Homo sapiens: one gene and its partner. The protein of the gene in region 2 purifies or fractionates together with the protein of the main gene of each other region. This does not show direct contact. Each region holds a gene or a part of one and is shown on either strand. Other genes may lie near its edges. The genes, in order: CTSC and CST6.

Region 1 (8,708 bases), about 22 Mb from region 2:
AGAAAATACTTTTTTCCCCAACTTACAGTATAGAATACCAAAAGAAAGTCAAAAGAGGAAACTTTAAGTACATTATTTTCTCAAGTACCTGACAAGATACTGTAGATGAGGGATCAATTCAAAGCAATTAATCCATCAAAGCCCTCTGTTTTGAAATTGCCATTTCTCTGTACAAATCATACTTATAACAGTCAAAGAATAAAGAACATGGGAGAAAATAACAGCTTTTACCAAGCTATATGAAAACCAATGTCAAATAATTTGGCTTTAGAAAGTCGAATTTCCTTTCCCTGAATTATTATCTCATATAACTTGTCAATCATTTCTTTTGGGAAGGGTTTGCTAAACTCTTCTACCTTCTCTTATGTTACCAATGAATTTAAAAAATGCTTTATTAAAGTAGTTATCATGCTTTACTTTAATGTTTTGCTTGTATGTCTTGCTAAACTGTAAATCACTAGGACAAGGACTATGTCATATTAGTCTTCATTTCCTCTGCCATTAAAAAAATCCTAATATATTTTAGATGTTCTGGTAACAACACCAGAAGCAACACTATAGTATCAGTAGCTCAAATTATATCATGCCAATGCTATCATGTGCCAGGACCTCAATGATAAAGTCAACACATAATATGCACTATGAATTAATCCTCTCAGGCACAAAAAATCTATTTGGTGATAGCATAACTTGCAATCTCTTAACATGGACCCTTCAATTTCACTTTCCATTCATTTCTCAATTATCTTCAAATTTATCTTATTTCCAATCCCACTTTCCAAAGAAGCCCTCCCCAGGAAATTGAGAAGGTAGGGAAAGATTTCAGGACCTATACTTTCTTTAGAGCTGAAGAGCCCAGAATAACTGGTAGAAAAGCAAAGAGACGAGACCCTTGGTGTCAGATGAAAAACAGAAATGTTGCTGACTGGCTGTTATAAGACCCACTTGGGGCTCTCAACATTCAGAACACTGCAAGAATTCAGTGAGATGGGAGCTTGGAGGGCAAGTGATGAAAATGAGACACGGCAGAGACTGATTATCACTAAAAGTTTAGGAAAGGGAAACAACAGTTTATCTTTGGGTACTATAAATTTATAATCCTCCCAGGAGACACTAATCAGAATGTTTCCAGACAGCAAATACTAAACCTATTTTATAGTAACAAATCAGCCATGGGTAGTATTATCTTCAAAATGAGCTTAGAAGTAATAAAACTGAGTATTGCATAGATTCTCCAAGTCATTGTTGGCTACAACTCAGGATAACAAGATAATTTGCTATCAAGTGCAGTTAGAGGACATGTTATGAAATCAACTCACATTGTATCAAACTTCTGAAAATAACTGGTAAAATTCAATAATAGGAATACTTTTCATGAACCTGGGTTCCGCCCTCACGCCATCACTCAGGAAGCTGGGTTAATACTTACCATCACATATCGTATTCTAATGTAAAGTGAATTGAAAGGTCCTTACACAGCTCAAAAAATCTACCAGGAAAATAATTTAAGGATTTATTTTACGGGTTCATGTAGTAATTAATGACTAAATTAATGGGGGTGGGGGAATACAGGAACAGGTATCAAAGAAAGATTCCAACAAACCACTTGCAGAATGGTACACAATTCTTTGCTTCTACTAGAATCTTTCCTACTAGGAGGACAAATGAGTTTGTCTTACATATCACTCTGATTGTCACTAGCTACCTGGAAAATATATTGAGAAGAGTACTGAATAAATGCTAAGCTCAGTAGAAAAGAAAATTTTTTACTAAAGTTTGTCATGGATATAAAAGGAAAGAATAATTCATAGGCCACCTATTTTCTATTTCTGTAAAAAGGGGATCATGCCCATTCCATCTAGGTATCCCCGAAATCCATCACACAGAGCAACTGTTCAATAAATAGTTCCAAACAAATTAACAAAAAACTTAGGCTTATTTTTTTACCTTGGTTTCGAACAGGACTGACAAAATTGATACCATGAACATTTCTCCAGTCCCAAGATGTTGGCAAATGCAAAATCTTTTGCTGTATTTCAGCAGTCAGTGGTGCAGGTTTGGGCCTAGAAAGGAAATATACATTTGATATCAACATATAATCTTTCCTTTGAGGATGATTTCCTAAACTCTACTATAATTCTATGATTTCAGCTACCAGACTAGCTAGGATCTAGATTCAGACCCAGAGCACCTGTTTTATGAGTGATTCAATGTGTCAATTACACAATGGAGTTGTGTAAATGGCTTTCATTCGCTGTTTCTTTTTCAGGATCTAGTATTGATAATTTTCCTTTGTGAAATGACACTGGTTTTGTATATCACTGTGATGTTATTTTTAGTTTGCCTGAATAGCTGCATTCTTACTCATTTTTGAAAGATTTTTGACCAAGAAAGAGATGAGAAGTAGAAGACATAAGAAGGGTTTAGAGAAAACAGAGGAATCACTGATGTTTGACTTAGGAGACAGACACATTGGTAGTGAGGTGGCTGTAAAAGAAGTGAAGTTGGCAAAGGGAAAAAAGGGTCTATGTGAGGCAGGAGAACAGGTTCTGGAGGCAGGGAACATAAGGCCAATTCACACTGACTTCCTAGAACTAAATAAAGTGGAAACACTTCAGCAATGGCAGGAATGCGAAGGGCTTTGTCACTTCACTTCATCCTCTCCGTTTACATGGGCCACAACCCCCAGGAGTAACACCCTCTCCATTAACACAAGGCCTATACTGAGTAAATGACTTTGTAACTTAACTCCACCCTCTTCATTTACATAAGGCATACACCAGGTAACCAATGGGAAACCTCTAGACGGTATTGAAACCCCAGAAAATTCTGTAACCAGGGCCTTGAATCATTTACTTAGGCCCACTCCCATCCTGTGGAGTGTGCTTTCATTTTCAATAAATCTCCGCTTTTGTTGCTTCATTCTTTCCTTGCCTCATTTGTGAGTTTTGTCCAATTCTTTGTTCAAGAAGCCAAGAACCTGGACACCCTCAACCAGTAACAAGCATAACACAGGCTGACTAGCTCCGTAAACAACAGATAAAACTGTTTCATTATAGAACCACACCTTATATGACAGTGTTGGGCTGTAAGACACACAAAGGAGAGTTGCCTAGGCCCATGAATGAACGGACATTTTTGGGAAGTGAGAAAATTGTTCTAACAGCTTCTCTGTATTAGCGATTTCACACATACATACACATGCACACACACACAAACACACGCGCGCACACACACACACACACACACACACAGAGAGAGAACCACAGCTTTAGACACATTCGACTTCTTGGAGTTTCCCCAAGACTGCCAAATGGCCTCTCTGTTCTATATCTTTATGCTGCTGCTCCTGTAACCTCAAGTGCCTGTTGCTCACCACTTAAAACTCCCCTAAGAGTTTTTCCCTAACTTGTAATTTTCAAAACTGCTCATAAAGTAGCCTCCACTCACCAGCCCCCAGCGAAAACTCACTTCCTCTCTCTCTCTGCTCCTTCAAATTTGTTTTTAGGGCACTAGTCACAATGTGGTAAAAATTATTTTTTGTTACTATAAACTATTTGAATTTCTTATTCAACTGGGCATTGTCATATCACACTGTTCTAGTTTTTCAGTGGTTACCAGATGTTTTTTACTAGGCTAAAATTTAGTCAATGGCAAAGATTCTTTCTGGGCTACTTCATGCCCTCTGCACCTATCCACAAATGGTCCCGTCTCTCACAGCTTCTCTTAGATATAACACAGGTTAAGAATACATGACAAGGGGCCAGGCGCGGTGGCTCACGCCTGTAATCCCAGCATTGGGAGGCCGAGGCGGGCGGATCACGAGGTCAGGAGATTGAGACCATCCTGGCTAACACAGTGAAACCCCGTCCCTACTAAAAATACAAAAAAAAATTAGCTGGGCGTGGTGGCGGGTGCCTGTAGTCCCAGCTACTCGGGAGGCTGAGGCAGGAGAATGGCATGAACCCAGGAGGTGGAGCTTGCAGTGAGCCGAGATTGCACCACTGCACTCCAGCCCGGGTGACAGAGCAAGACTCCGCCTCAAAAAAAAAAAAAAAAAAAAAAAAAAGAATACATGACAAAATGGAACTGAGATGAAACAAAGAGAAAAACAACAACGATTTCTTCAAAAATAGCAATTGTAACCTTGACAATTGTATAGATTACACAAACACTAGTTAATTGTTCACTAATTTTTTCTCCTAAGCCAGTCACATTGGTTGAAGATATACATGATACAGAGATAAATATGAGATGGTCATTAACAATATGGAAGACAATGTTAAGAGACATAATATACACAAAGATTACTATAACAAGTTACAGTAATGCTATAAAACACACAATTTGGACAAAGTCTATATAATCAAGGATCATAAAAATCTGTGCCTCATAGGTAATTTTATATATAGGGTGAGAGAAAAAACAAAGCTTGGACATTTCTTCTAAGATGTATAAATAAAAACTAAGATGCAAACAAACCATTTCCATCTTTGAATGGAAATAGTTTCTGTGGTTTCACATTGAGAGAGTATGTTGAAGAAGAAACTCAATTTTTTTTTAATTCTCTCACTGAACACTATCAACTGTCAACACAAAAGACTTCTGTGATCAAATGCATGTGGGTTTTTCCCCACAAATCAAGCAAGCAACCAATTTCACAGTGAATACTAGCTGGGTGTCCTCCAATCCAGTTTTGACACTGTGTACTTAGAGATGGCATCAGATCTCACAGGCTGAGGGCTCCGTCCCACAAAACTGCCCCCTACTTCTCATGCCAATTGAAAGCCCTAGGTTGTTTACCTGTGCTTCTGGCCAACCAGCTATAATGTGGGGATCCTATGACACCCTCCTTGGGTTCAATTAATTTGCTAGAGTGACTCACAGAACTCAGAGAAATACTAACTAATGTTTAGTGGTTTATTATAAAAGATACTACAAATGAAACAGATGAAGAAATGAGTAGGGCAAGGTATGGGGGAAGGGGCACACAGCTTCCATGCCCTCCCTGAACACGCCACCCTCCAGGAACTTCCACTTGTTCAGCTATCTGGAAGCTCTCTGCACCCTGTCCTTGTGAGCCTTATATGGGGACTTCATCAAATAGGCACAACTGACAACCATGTAGAGATGTGACTGGACATAAAGGGAATGATGTAAACACAGCAAGGCCTGTCCAGATTCTTCTGAGCCTCTCTCTGTTCAGTGTTCCTTCCTTTAGGGTATGACACAGGACATCTTTGGAAATGAAGGTCTTATGACCCAAGATCAGAAAGGCAGGAGAAGATTAGAGTGCTGCCCTGGGCAGGTGAGAGGAGGGCGGAAGAAGATCAGAGAGAGAGAGAGAGAGAGACTCTGTTTTCTGAGGCCTACTTCTGAGGCCTAATGTGCCCCAACGTTAAAAGATAGTGACAAGGGCTATGGGAGTTATGAGCCAGGAACTGTGGACAAAATCTAGTATGTGTTAACTAGTTGTCTTGTTTAAACCTAAGAATATACTAATATAAAGGATAAAAAAGAAATTTAAGTTTGGCAGCATAATGTAATTTCAGGGCATATGATTTTATCACTTACTATCTGTGTAACATTTGGCAAGGAACCTAACATTACAAAACTACAGTTCACTTCTATTAAAGTGGGTATAATCATGCTTACCTCAAAGGGTTGTTATGAAAATTCAATGTAATAATGGGTAACAAGTGCTTAGAACAGTGTTTTTCTCTGATAAGTCCTTAATAAAATGGCAGCTGTTATGAAGATAACATTCATATCATTAACAGGACTAAATAAGATGCTGATACAGTTTAAAGCAATTATCTGGCACAAAACAGTCATTACAATATTAAGTTCCTTTTTTCTACCATCCTATAAGGCAGAGATTTGCCCATCATTGCACACACAAACAAAACAAAAACAGTGTGAGAACTGAGGCTTAATGATGTTGTCAAAGGTGTTTGACCCAGAGCAACTCCATCTTGAATAGGAGCTGGGTAAGATGAGGCTGAGACCTACTGGGCTGCATTCCCAGACAGTTAAGGCATTCTAAGTCATAGAATGAGATAGGAGGTCAGCACAAGATTCAGGTCATAAAGACCTTGCTGATAGAACAGACAGGCTGCAGTAAAGAAGCCAGCTAAAACCCACCAAAACCAAGATGGCGATGAGAGTGACCTCTGGTCTTCCTCACTGCTACACTCCCACCAGCACCATGACAGTTTAAGAATGCCATGACAGGCCAGGTTTGGTGGCTCACATCTGTAATTGCAGCACTTTGGGAGGCCAAGGTAGGCAGATCACCTGAAGTCAGGAGTTCAAGACCAGCCTGGCCAACATGGCAAAACCCTGTTTCAACTAAAAATACAAAAATTGGCTGGGCATGGTGGGTCATGCCTGTAATCCCAGCTACTTGGGAGGCTGAGGCAGGAGAATCATTTAAACCCAGGAGGCAGAGGTTGCAGTGAGCCAAGATTGCTTTACCGCACTCCAGCCTGGACAACACAGTGAGACTCTGTCAAAAAAAAAAAAGAATGCCATGACAATGTCAGGAAGTTACCCTCTATGGTCTAAAAAGGGGAGGCATGAATAATCCATCCCTTGTTTAGCATACAATCAAGAAATAACCATAAAAATGGACAACCAGCTGCCCTCAGGGCTGCTCTGTCTATGGAGTAGCCATTCTTTTATTCCTTTACTTTCTTAATAAACTTGCTTTCACTTTGCATTGAGGACTCGCCCTAAATTCTTTCTTGCACAAGATCCAAGAGCCCTCTCTTGGGGTCTGGATCAGGACCCCTTTCCAGTAACACTGTGAAAATGAAGAGAGAGCAAGAGGAGTCTGGGGGATAAAAAGGTGAGAATTACAAACATTTTGAGTACAAGATACAGGATTGGCTCTTAATCTTTTGGCCCACATTCTTTACAAATCTAGTGAAAGCTCTAGATTCAGAAATGCTCATAAACAATAAATGCTGTCTGTAATTTCAGCAGTTTCAAAGACTCCCTATATCTCAAGTTAAGAATCTTTGAGAGTTTCTATTACGTCATTGGATTCTTAGAACAGAACTAATTTATAAACAAAAATGCTAGTGAAAAATCAGGAAGCCAGATTATAATATCTGCTTTCATATTTCCTACTTCACTCAATTCCATCTCCTTATCTTAAACCTTCTATAAAGCTTTAGTCATGAAAACAGTCCTTCATAAACCCAGCCCTTGTCTAAAACAAAAGTGGTTGGCTGGAGGGAGAAGGGAGCTTTAGCAGGAGTCCTCAGAAACATAGCATATGACACTTGGTAAAGCAGCTGTGACTGAGGCTCCCATCTTTCAGGCAGGAGCCACAGTCTCCCTAGGCTCAAGTGCTAACACTCCTCCTCTTGATGCTTGTTTGGATTTTTGTTGTTGAATAGATCTCAGCTTCCTGTCTCATGCAGATACATTAAGACACATTAGGACTTCACTTTGGTGAATTTGAGAAGGGGATATGATATGCTCCGTTTTCCAATTTTGATTAACTAGAGCATTTCACAGACAAGAAATTCTCTAGAATAAACTTGGAGAAATACTGCAAAAGATTCTTTTAAGAAAGGGGTAGAATTATGGGAGGATGCCATCAGTTGGACAGGAAAAACCTTCACATAGTCTCACAGTTGAAAAATGCCACACCTTAGCATTATTAGTCTGCAGATGAAAAAGTTAGTAATGTTGATATGGACAGGAGACAGGGAAATACTGGGTAGAAGAGGGTGGTCCCTCAGCAAAGGCCCCACCCTCAAGCCTGAAGACCTAAGGCCCTAAGAGAAGACAGGCATTTCTGTTTTCACACCAAAAAAGGTGCCTTTTGGCCCGCCATGCCCCCCATCCTTCCCCCATATAAACCCAAAATCTTAGCAGGCACAGATACAAGGAGCTGAACATCCAGAGGAGCAGAGGAACAGAGCGGCACAGAGCTGTGGAGAGTGGTGGGACAGCACAGCAGAAAAGGAGGGAAGAGGTATTTGAACCCAGAGGAGAACAGGAACAAGTGGACTCCAGGGGAAGAACACCTTTCCCCTCCATCCTCCTTCTCTGGCTGAGAGTCGTCTCGCGGAGAGCCACCTCCACCACTCAATAAAACCTTGTGCTCATCCTTCCAGCCCACGTGTGATCCAATTCTTCTGGTACACTGAGCAAGAACTTAGGCTGTCACATTGGACCCCTGCCCTTGCAATAAGGCATGGGGTCTAATGACCTGATTAACACAAGCCATCTGCAGACGGCTAAGCTGAAAGAGCACACTGTAACACATGCCCACTTGGGCTTCAGGAGTCTCCAACATCCACTCCTAGACACTGCTGTGGGGCCAGAGCCCAAAAGCACCCCCCATGGCCTCTGCACCTGCCCCTCTGCATGCTCCCCCTAGGGGTTTGGGTGGTAGGGCAAGGGCAACCAAAGGTGTGAGAAGCCACACCTCTGTCATATGCCTGCGAGGGAGATAAGGGAACTCTCACATTTCAAAGTGTTTTAGTTGAGTAATTATTAATCTATTAGTAGTTTATTCAAATAATACAAATTTGAGCCATGAACTCTACAGATATTAGAGGATTAAACATTGTATTCTCTGAGAATTTGAGGCTATTTCAATGTATTAAGGAAAAATAACCTACCTATATAATTTTTCAAATTCTGCTAGCTCCCCATTGCTTTCCAATTCCTTACCCCTTAGTCACATG
Region 2 (7,961 bases):
GTGCATCTGAGGAACCTCTGGGTGTGGCATGTGGGTCCTTGGGTTGTGTTTGAGTTTTGTGTGTACATCTCCAGGTTGTTTCTCTAGGGTGTGTTGCTTCTGTGCTCATGAGTTGCTAGGCTGTGTTTCTCTGGGTATGCATGTGATATCTGCCAGCATCTGAGTGTGTGCTCTGGGTGTCTGTGTGTGTATGTCTGGTGTGTTGTGCTTTGGGTGTGTGCGTGTGTATATGTATGGGGGGGTATGAATTGCAGCCACAAATTCAGATGTGCAAATGTTGCAATGCTGTTTTCTTCTTCTTTTTTTATTTTTAATTTTTTTGAGATGGAGTCTCGCTCTGTCTCCCAGACTGGAGTGCAGTGGCGCAATCTCGGCTCACTGCAACCTCTGCCTCCTGGATTCAAGCGATTCTCCTACCTCAGCTTCCTGAGTAGCTGAGATTACAGGCACCTGCCACCACACCCAGATAATTTTTGTATTCTTGGTTGAGATGGGATTTCACCATGTTGGCCAGGCTGGTTTTTTTTTTTTTTTTTTTTTTTTTGAGATGGAGTCTGGCTCTGGCGCCCAGGCTGGAGTGCAGTGGCGCCATCTCGGCTCACTGCAAGCTCCACCTCCCGGGTTCACGCCATTCTCCTGCCTCAGCCTCCCGAGTAGCTGGGACTACAGGCGCCCGCCACTACACCCAGCTAATTTTTTGTATTTTTAGTAGAGACGGGGTTTCACCGTGTTACCCAGGATGGTCTCGATCTGCTGACCTCGTGATCTGCCCGCCTCGGCCTCCCAAAGTGCTGGGATTACAGGCGTGAGTCACCGCGCCCGGCCACCAGGCTGGTCTTGAACCCCTGACCTCAGGTGATCCATCCACCTCAGCCTACCAAAGTGCTGGGATTACAGGTGTGAGGCCGGCTGCAATGCTGTTTTCTTTAAATGACATTACATTGAATCTGTCCCCTCACCCCTCCTGTGGGCGCTAGACAATCTCTGTCCCTCTGCGGCTCCTAGTCTAGCCCCTTTCAGGCGTCTTGCCCAGGGCAAGGCAAGAGAGGCGTCCTTGTGGCGTGGAGCCCACAGTGTGGACTGAGAGGCACTGTCCTAGCCTTCATGGTCTCTTGGCCTGCAGGGACTCTGCCATCGTTGGGCCACATGCAGGTGGAGGAATCTTTATAGGCTGGGAGCTCAGTGTCCTGGGTGAGGACACTGCCTGATTGAAGCCCCCCATGCCACCCATGAGCTCCTCCTGGGGCTGAGTGGGAGCACAGCACAGACTCCTCCTCAGAGTGCTCCCAGGCAGCCGGCCCTGTTCTTATCTCAGGCCATCGCCCCTCCTCTGTGAGTCTGCCGCCACCCCTGACCTCTGAGAATATTGGGAGTCTCTGGCTGTGTGTGGGGGCTCTAAGGTTTGTTCCTCTATGCCTGTGATGCTGGGGTGTTTGGGGGCTCCACATTTGGAGGCTCAGCCCTGCACCTTCAGCACTGTCTGGGCTGGGACAGCAGCAGCTCTGCTGCAGGTGGCAGGGTGACCTCTCAGCTTGGGCTGGGGAGCTGGGAGCTGCCAGAAGTGGGAGTGGGGGATGGGGGCAGAAGCGAAGCACTTGGAAGAAACCAATGCAAGAAGCAGCACTGGCCATTTATTGTGACAGATACGGCCCACGGACCTGAAGTGCCCTCCACCATGGCCCCAAACCCAATGGCCTTCGCCCTCGGGGACTTATCACATCTGCACACAGTTGTGCTTTAGGAGCTGAGAGGAGTTCTGCCAGGGAACCACAAGGACCTCAAAGTCACAGCGCAGCTTCTGTGGAGGGAATATGGGGGAGAAGGAGGGGTGAGCCCAGCCTCGACCTGTCTCCTCCCAACAGCCAGCCCTCTGCCTGCCAGGCTGCTCCAGGCCAAGAGAGGGACAATCACTGACCCAACGGATGTCAAGCCGCATGTCTGGGGCTAGACTCCAGATCTTGGTAGCCAACTTCCCCATTCCCGAGGGAAGCCCCAGCTTCCTTTCTGCACCCCATCTTGGCCCAGAGGCTGACTCATCCAGAAGGACGACAGGTTCAGCCAGACATCTAGACATCTACGTGTCCAGCCAAACCAGTTCAGGATGGACAACCTGAGTGCCTGAGGCTCTGGGGAGGGCTGGGGCTGGAGGAGCCCAGCTGTTACCTCCTGCTGCGCCCCTGCTGCCAGGGGGCAAGTGGTGAGGTCGACGTGGTCTCCAGTGACCCTGGTCTTGCGGCAGTCTGTGCTCCCCATCTCCATCGTCAGGAAGTACTTGATGCCGGCCACCAGCTGGGGGCATAGGGTAGGGGCAGGTCAGGGGTCTTGACCCTTGATCCTCACTTCTCACCTCTTGATATATTCTCCTGTTGCCCCCAGGCACTCAGGTGGGGAGAGAGGGAGAGGGGATGATTCAGACGGGGTGGGGGGGGGTGGGGGGGGGTGGGGGGGGGAGTTCTGGTGGGGATGGAGGGTGGAGAGGCCTGGAGGCTGAGCCCCACCAGCAGCCTTGGCAGACATCAGACATGCCCCATCTAGGGAGCTGCCCACTGTCCCCACCTGCCTTCCCTCCTCCCCGATCCACCCCATCAGGGCAGAGACTAGGACCAGGCAAGCCAGGAAGGCAGGTAGTGCAATACAGGGTTTAATTATGTCTTTCCTTGAAATTTAGATGGTTGTCCATCGTGGAGTTTTAGCATTAATTCGATTTTTAAAATATTGCATGAAAATATCCCGATTGCGCTTTTAGGCCCCCTTCATGCACGCTGGGGCAGCGCCTGTGGCCTCCCCCATCTGGGCCGGGTGTCCCCTCCCAGCACCCCGCCCGCCGCACCTGGCTCTGCGCCTTGATGATGTGCGTGTCTCGGAAGTAGTAGATGCTGTTGCTGCCCATGTTGTAGCTGGCCACGGCCGCCTGCGCCGCCTTCTGCACCTGCGGGTCGTCGGGCGACAGGTCCCGGAGTTCTCCGACCATGCGCTCCTGCGGCCGGGCCCGGGCGTCGCGTGGCAGCGCCAGGAGGCAGAATGCGACCAGGGCCAGGCCCAGCGCCAGCGGGAGGTTCGAACGCGCCATGGCCGTCAGTGCCGTCGGAGCCCTCAGAGCCGTGAGTGCCGAGCTTGCGGCCGCGCAGCTTTTACCCGCTGGGCCGCCCCGCCCGACGCCCGCGATGCGCCCCCGCGGCCTGGAGCTGGGGCGGGGCTCGAAGTTGCCGGGGTCCTGCGAGGTTCAGGGAGCCCAGGAGGCCGAGGGGGCGGCGCGCACCCGCGTGCCAAGACGCTTCCCTGCCCTCCAGGACACACCTGGCCCGGGGAGGGAGAGGACAGCGACAGTCCCCAGCAACAAGTGCCAGTACAGGGACGGTTCACGGGAGGGCTGTCCAGAATGAACTACCAACCGCAGCTCTTCGTGGGCTCTTACTGTTGCCACCATTTCCTAGCTGTGTAACCTCGGAGAAGTCACTTAACCACTCGCTGCCTCAGTTTCCTCTTCTGTACAATGGGTGTTGTGAGGATTCAGTGAGCTGAAACAGGTAAAGTTCTTAGAAGAGGTCTGGTGCTGGATAAACAGCAGGTGAGTAGGACACATTACTGCTCAGCGCTGCCTGACAACCTTCCTGGAGCGCGAGTGACTAATGTTTCTACCTGGCCAGGCACCTAGGCATGCTTGTAATTCCAGCACTTTGAGAGGCCAAGGTGGGAGGACCACTTGAGCCAAGGAGTTCAAGTCAGTGAATCGTGATCTCACCACTGCAGCATTCCAGCCTGGGCGACAGAGCTAGACGCTGACTCAAAAAAAAAAAAAAAAAAAAAAAAAAAAAAGAAGGCCGGGCATGAGGGCTCACACTTGTAATCCCAGCACTTTGGGAGGCCGAGGCAGGCAGATCACTTGAGGTCAGGAGTTCAAGACCAGCCTGGCCAACATGGTGAAACCCCGTCTCTACCAAAAATACAAAAATTAGCCAGGCGTGGTGGCACACACCTGAATTCCCAGCTACTCAGAAGGCTGAGGCAGGGGAATTGCTTGAACCTGGGAGGCAGAGGTTGCAGTGAGCCAAAATGGCACCACTGCGCTCTAGCCTGGGTGACAGAGAGAGACTCTGTCTCACAAAAAAAAAAAAGAAAAAAGAAAAAAAATAGTTTCCACTTTACAGAGAAGGGAAAATGGATTTGCCCAAAGACACCGGCAGGAAATAAATGGTGACACTGGCTTGTGTGTGCTGACAGTCTAAGTCAAATCTGTGGTCTTAAACCAGACTGAGCCCACAGGACACAAACTGCCCAGAAGGAGGGGGTGTCAGTCATGTCAGCTCTGCCATCTTACTGACGGCATGGCTTTGGGCAAGTCCCTCAACCTCCCACACAGAGCCTCCGTGCCCTCGTCTGAAAGACACCTTATCTCCTAAGTTTGTTCTGATATTGATGTTTCGAATCTGGCTGTCCCGTGGATACAGTGAGCATGTGCTGGAGGTACCAGCAAACAAGGCCCATGACTGTGTTTTTAAAGACTCCAATAATTGCCAGGTGTGGTGGCTCACGCCTGTAATCCCAGCACTTTGGGAGGCCGAGGTGGGCAGATCACTTGAGGCCAGGAGTTCGAGACCAGCCTGGCCAACATGGTGAAACCCCATCATAGCCCGCACGGACCTAGGGGGACTGAACAAAGCCGGGCAAACGTGGGAATAAAAGACAAGAGACAAAAGAGTATATTTGGAAGAAGGGGTCAGGGGGCACCTTGCCTCTAGTGGACAAGGGCCCTGAGCTTTACACAGCCCTCTGTATGTAGTAGGCAAAAGAGATAGCGAGAAAGGGGGAGGGTGATTGTCGGGTATGTCAGGTAATTGTCGGTCAGCACTTTGGTTCACAGCAGGCTTGTGAGACTGCATCCTTTGAACAATAGGTGCTAATTTTCTCAGTAGATAACTTCAGGGACCCCAGTGCCAAGGAGTAAGGCCCTCAGCAAACCTTTTGGTGGCAGGGCAGTGGGAGTTTGCCCACATCCTGCATTCGTGATAAACAGGTGGCTGTTTGATCATATAGCCTTCAGTGGAATGCTGAGTTGGTCACAATCCCTTTGGCCCTTTCGGCTCCCAACACCCCATCTCTACTAAAAATACAAAAATTAGCTGGGTGTGGTGGTGCACACCTGTAGTCTCAGCTACTTGGGAGGCTGAGGTGGGTGAATCACTTGAACCTGGGAGGCAGAGGTTGCAGTGAGCTGAGACGGCACCCACTGCACTCCAGCCTGGGTGACAGAGCAAGACTCTATCTCAAAAAAAAAAGACTCCAATAATTAATTGATTATTATTAATAGGTGGTGATCTATTAATCACACGGTAGCTCACACCTGTAATCCCAGGACTTTGGGAGTCGGAAGCAGGAGGATCACTTGAGGCCAGGAGTTTGAGACCAGCCTGGGCAACATAGTGAGCCGTCTCTACCAAAAAATCTAAAATAAATTAGCTGTGCATGGTGGTGCACGCCTGTGGTCCCAGCTACTCGGGAGGCTGAGGTGGGAGGATTACTAGAGTCTGGGAGGTCGAGGCTGCAGTGAGCAGTGATGGTGCCACTGCACTCCACCTGGGTGACAGAGCAAGACTCTGTCTCAAAAAAAAAAAGGAACAGATGAAAAGCAGTGTTGAAGTAGTCAACGCAAGAAAAGTCTGGATTTTGTTGAATTTTTTTTTTTTTTTGTGACAGCGCTCTGTCAGCCAGGCTAGAGTGCAGTGGCGCTATCATAGCTCACTATAACTCGACTTCCTGGCTTCAAGCTATCCTCCCATCTCAGCCTCCCAAGTAGCTGGGACCACAGGCGCATGCCCCCATGCCTGGTTAATTTTTTTCCACACCTGGCTAATTCTTATATTTTTTTGTAGAGATGGGGTCTCACAGTAGTGCCAGGTGGGTCTCGAATGCCTGGCCTCAAGAGATCACGAGATCCTCCCACCTCAGCTTCCCAAAATGCTGGGATTACAGGCAGGCCTTGGAATTATTTGTCTGCATTTTAGAGTTCAGTGTAGTTTGTATTTGTAATTCCATGTTGCTGGGGGGCGGGGCTTATTGTCCCTGGGGCACTAAGATCTTGCAGTGCTTAGAGCCTCCAGGGGCTTCACTGGGGCTTGGAAGAGGTGCTAGGTCACAGTACGTAAAGAGCAGCTGGCAACTGTCACTGTGATGGATATTGTATGTAGGCATCCAGCGTGTCACCCTCCCTTCCTGATTCTGGGCCTTAGAATCCCAGGACCACAAAAGGAAGTGATTTCCCACACAGAGACCTAGACCACAGCGGTCACTCACTGCCCAGGGCAGCTGCCAGCCTGCTACCCACCTCACTTCCTCAGCCCAGCTGTGGAAAACCAACTCTGCCATCTTCCTGGGATTCCAAGGAACCGTCACAAGTTCCTGGCGGCCTCAGGTGTCTGGCTTAAAGGGACAGACTCCAGTTTGTGGAAGTGCTGGCCGAGCTTGAGTTGATCAGGAGGATGACGCCTGGCCAGGACTCTGAGCTGAAAGCCTGGGAGGGGTAGAGGAAGAGTACCAGGATCGTGCCACAGGGGCGAGGTGGGAGAGGCAGCTCCCCTGGGCCTGCTGTGTCATCACTTGGAGCTTAGCCATGGCCACAGGTACCTCCAACAGCTCTCTCAAAAACTAGCCAAGGCCTGTCTGCCACTCACCAAGGGCACCCACTCCACCTGCCTCTGCTTTGTGCTGATGCAAAGGACTTTTTTTGCAGTACAACCTAGCAATTTCTGAGCACTTTTCACCCACTGATTCTCACAAGCACCCTGAGGGAGTACACATTATCCTCACTTTGCAGATGAAGAAGTTAATCAGAGAGGTCGGGACACTTGTCTAAGGTCACACAGCTAGAAGTGGTATCTTGGTAAGAAAAGGTGGGGAGGATTAACAATGGTAAGAACTCTTGCTGTGTGCCAGGCCTTGCGCCAGGGATTCAATATATGTTCTTTCATTCCCATAGCAGCTCTGCACAGACAATGACTATTATCTCTTCCTACAAGGAGGAAATGGGAGATCAAAGGGGAAAGGTTAGTGGTGGGTCCCGGTGCATGAGTCCTGGGCTGCTCCACAGGGGTTTGAGGTCTGCTGTGCATGGTGTAGGGGTTGTTTCTTGCAGATGGGGTGTCCCTGAGCAGACTTTCCCAGGGCCTGACTCCATCCCGTCTGGACCACTCTGGCTTCCAGGAGGTTTGCGCCAAGCGTGAGCTTGAGGTCGGTCAAATGTACTGGCCACAGGGCAGAGCCTCCAGTTTTGCAGTGGCCCAGACATCCCACCCCAGGTTGTCCACAGCACCCCTCTCTTGCCCCTGGCCTGATGGGTGGAGATGACCAGGGCAGGTTCTTGACATCTCCTTCCCTCTGGGATCAGGCTCTCCAAGGCTTCGATGCTTCCCCCAGAACCCTCTTCCTTGAACCTTCAGTTGGGCAGAGGATATTGCCCTCCCCCCAGGGCTCTGTAGCCCCATATCCTGGAAAGGAGATCTTTCAGCAAGGAAACCTGTAATCCAACAGGGATTAAAGCTCCCCTCTGGGGAGGAGCGCTCCTAAGCGCTGCTGATTCACTGGTTGAATCTTCACAACCCTGTTATCAGCTGGCAGAGGAGGCTGTAGCTCAGGGGAGTGAAGCAACTTGCTCCAGATCGCATGGGGAGCAAAGCCCCAGAATCGGGCCTGGCTGGCTCTTCAAGGCTGCCACCAGTCAAGGTTGGGAGTGACAGGAAAGAGCCCTGGTCCCCACAGGGAGGGGCCAGCCTGGAAAGGGATCAACAGTCACAAGCACCTGCTGGGAGCCTTCCATGCTCAGCAGGCTGCCGGGGGCAGGGCTTGTGGTGGTCCAGGTAGCCTCCCCCTACTTCCTTTCTGGGGGCAGCAGGAGCCCTTCAGCACCCCAGAGTGCATGGGCTGGGTTCACACGAAGTTCTAGGCTGGCTCTGAGCACTCATGACTAG

The links.
Region 1: the proteins of CST6 (region 2) and CTSC purify together in Homo sapiens (co-immunoprecipitation; 2 studies listed by BioGRID and IntAct, with this or other methods). This does not show direct contact.

Annotation. Positions count from the first base shown.
Region 1 is NC_000011.10:88,298,583-88,307,290, forward strand, and holds part of CTSC (dipeptidyl peptidase 1 isoform a preproprotein), read right to left. Parts: intron 2,064-8,708; coding exon 1,948-2,063; intron 1-1,947. UniProt on the Homo sapiens protein: Thiol protease. Has dipeptidylpeptidase activity. Active against a broad range of dipeptide substrates composed of both polar and hydrophobic amino acids. Proline cannot occupy the P1 position and arginine cannot occupy the P2 position of the substrate.
Region 2 is NC_000011.10:66,007,154-66,015,114, reverse strand, and holds CST6 (cystatin-M precursor), read right to left. Parts: upstream 3,108-7,961; 5' UTR 3,071-3,107; coding exon 2,831-3,070; intron 2,290-2,830; coding exon 2,164-2,289; intron 1,799-2,163; coding exon 1,715-1,798; 3' UTR 1,610-1,714; downstream 1-1,609.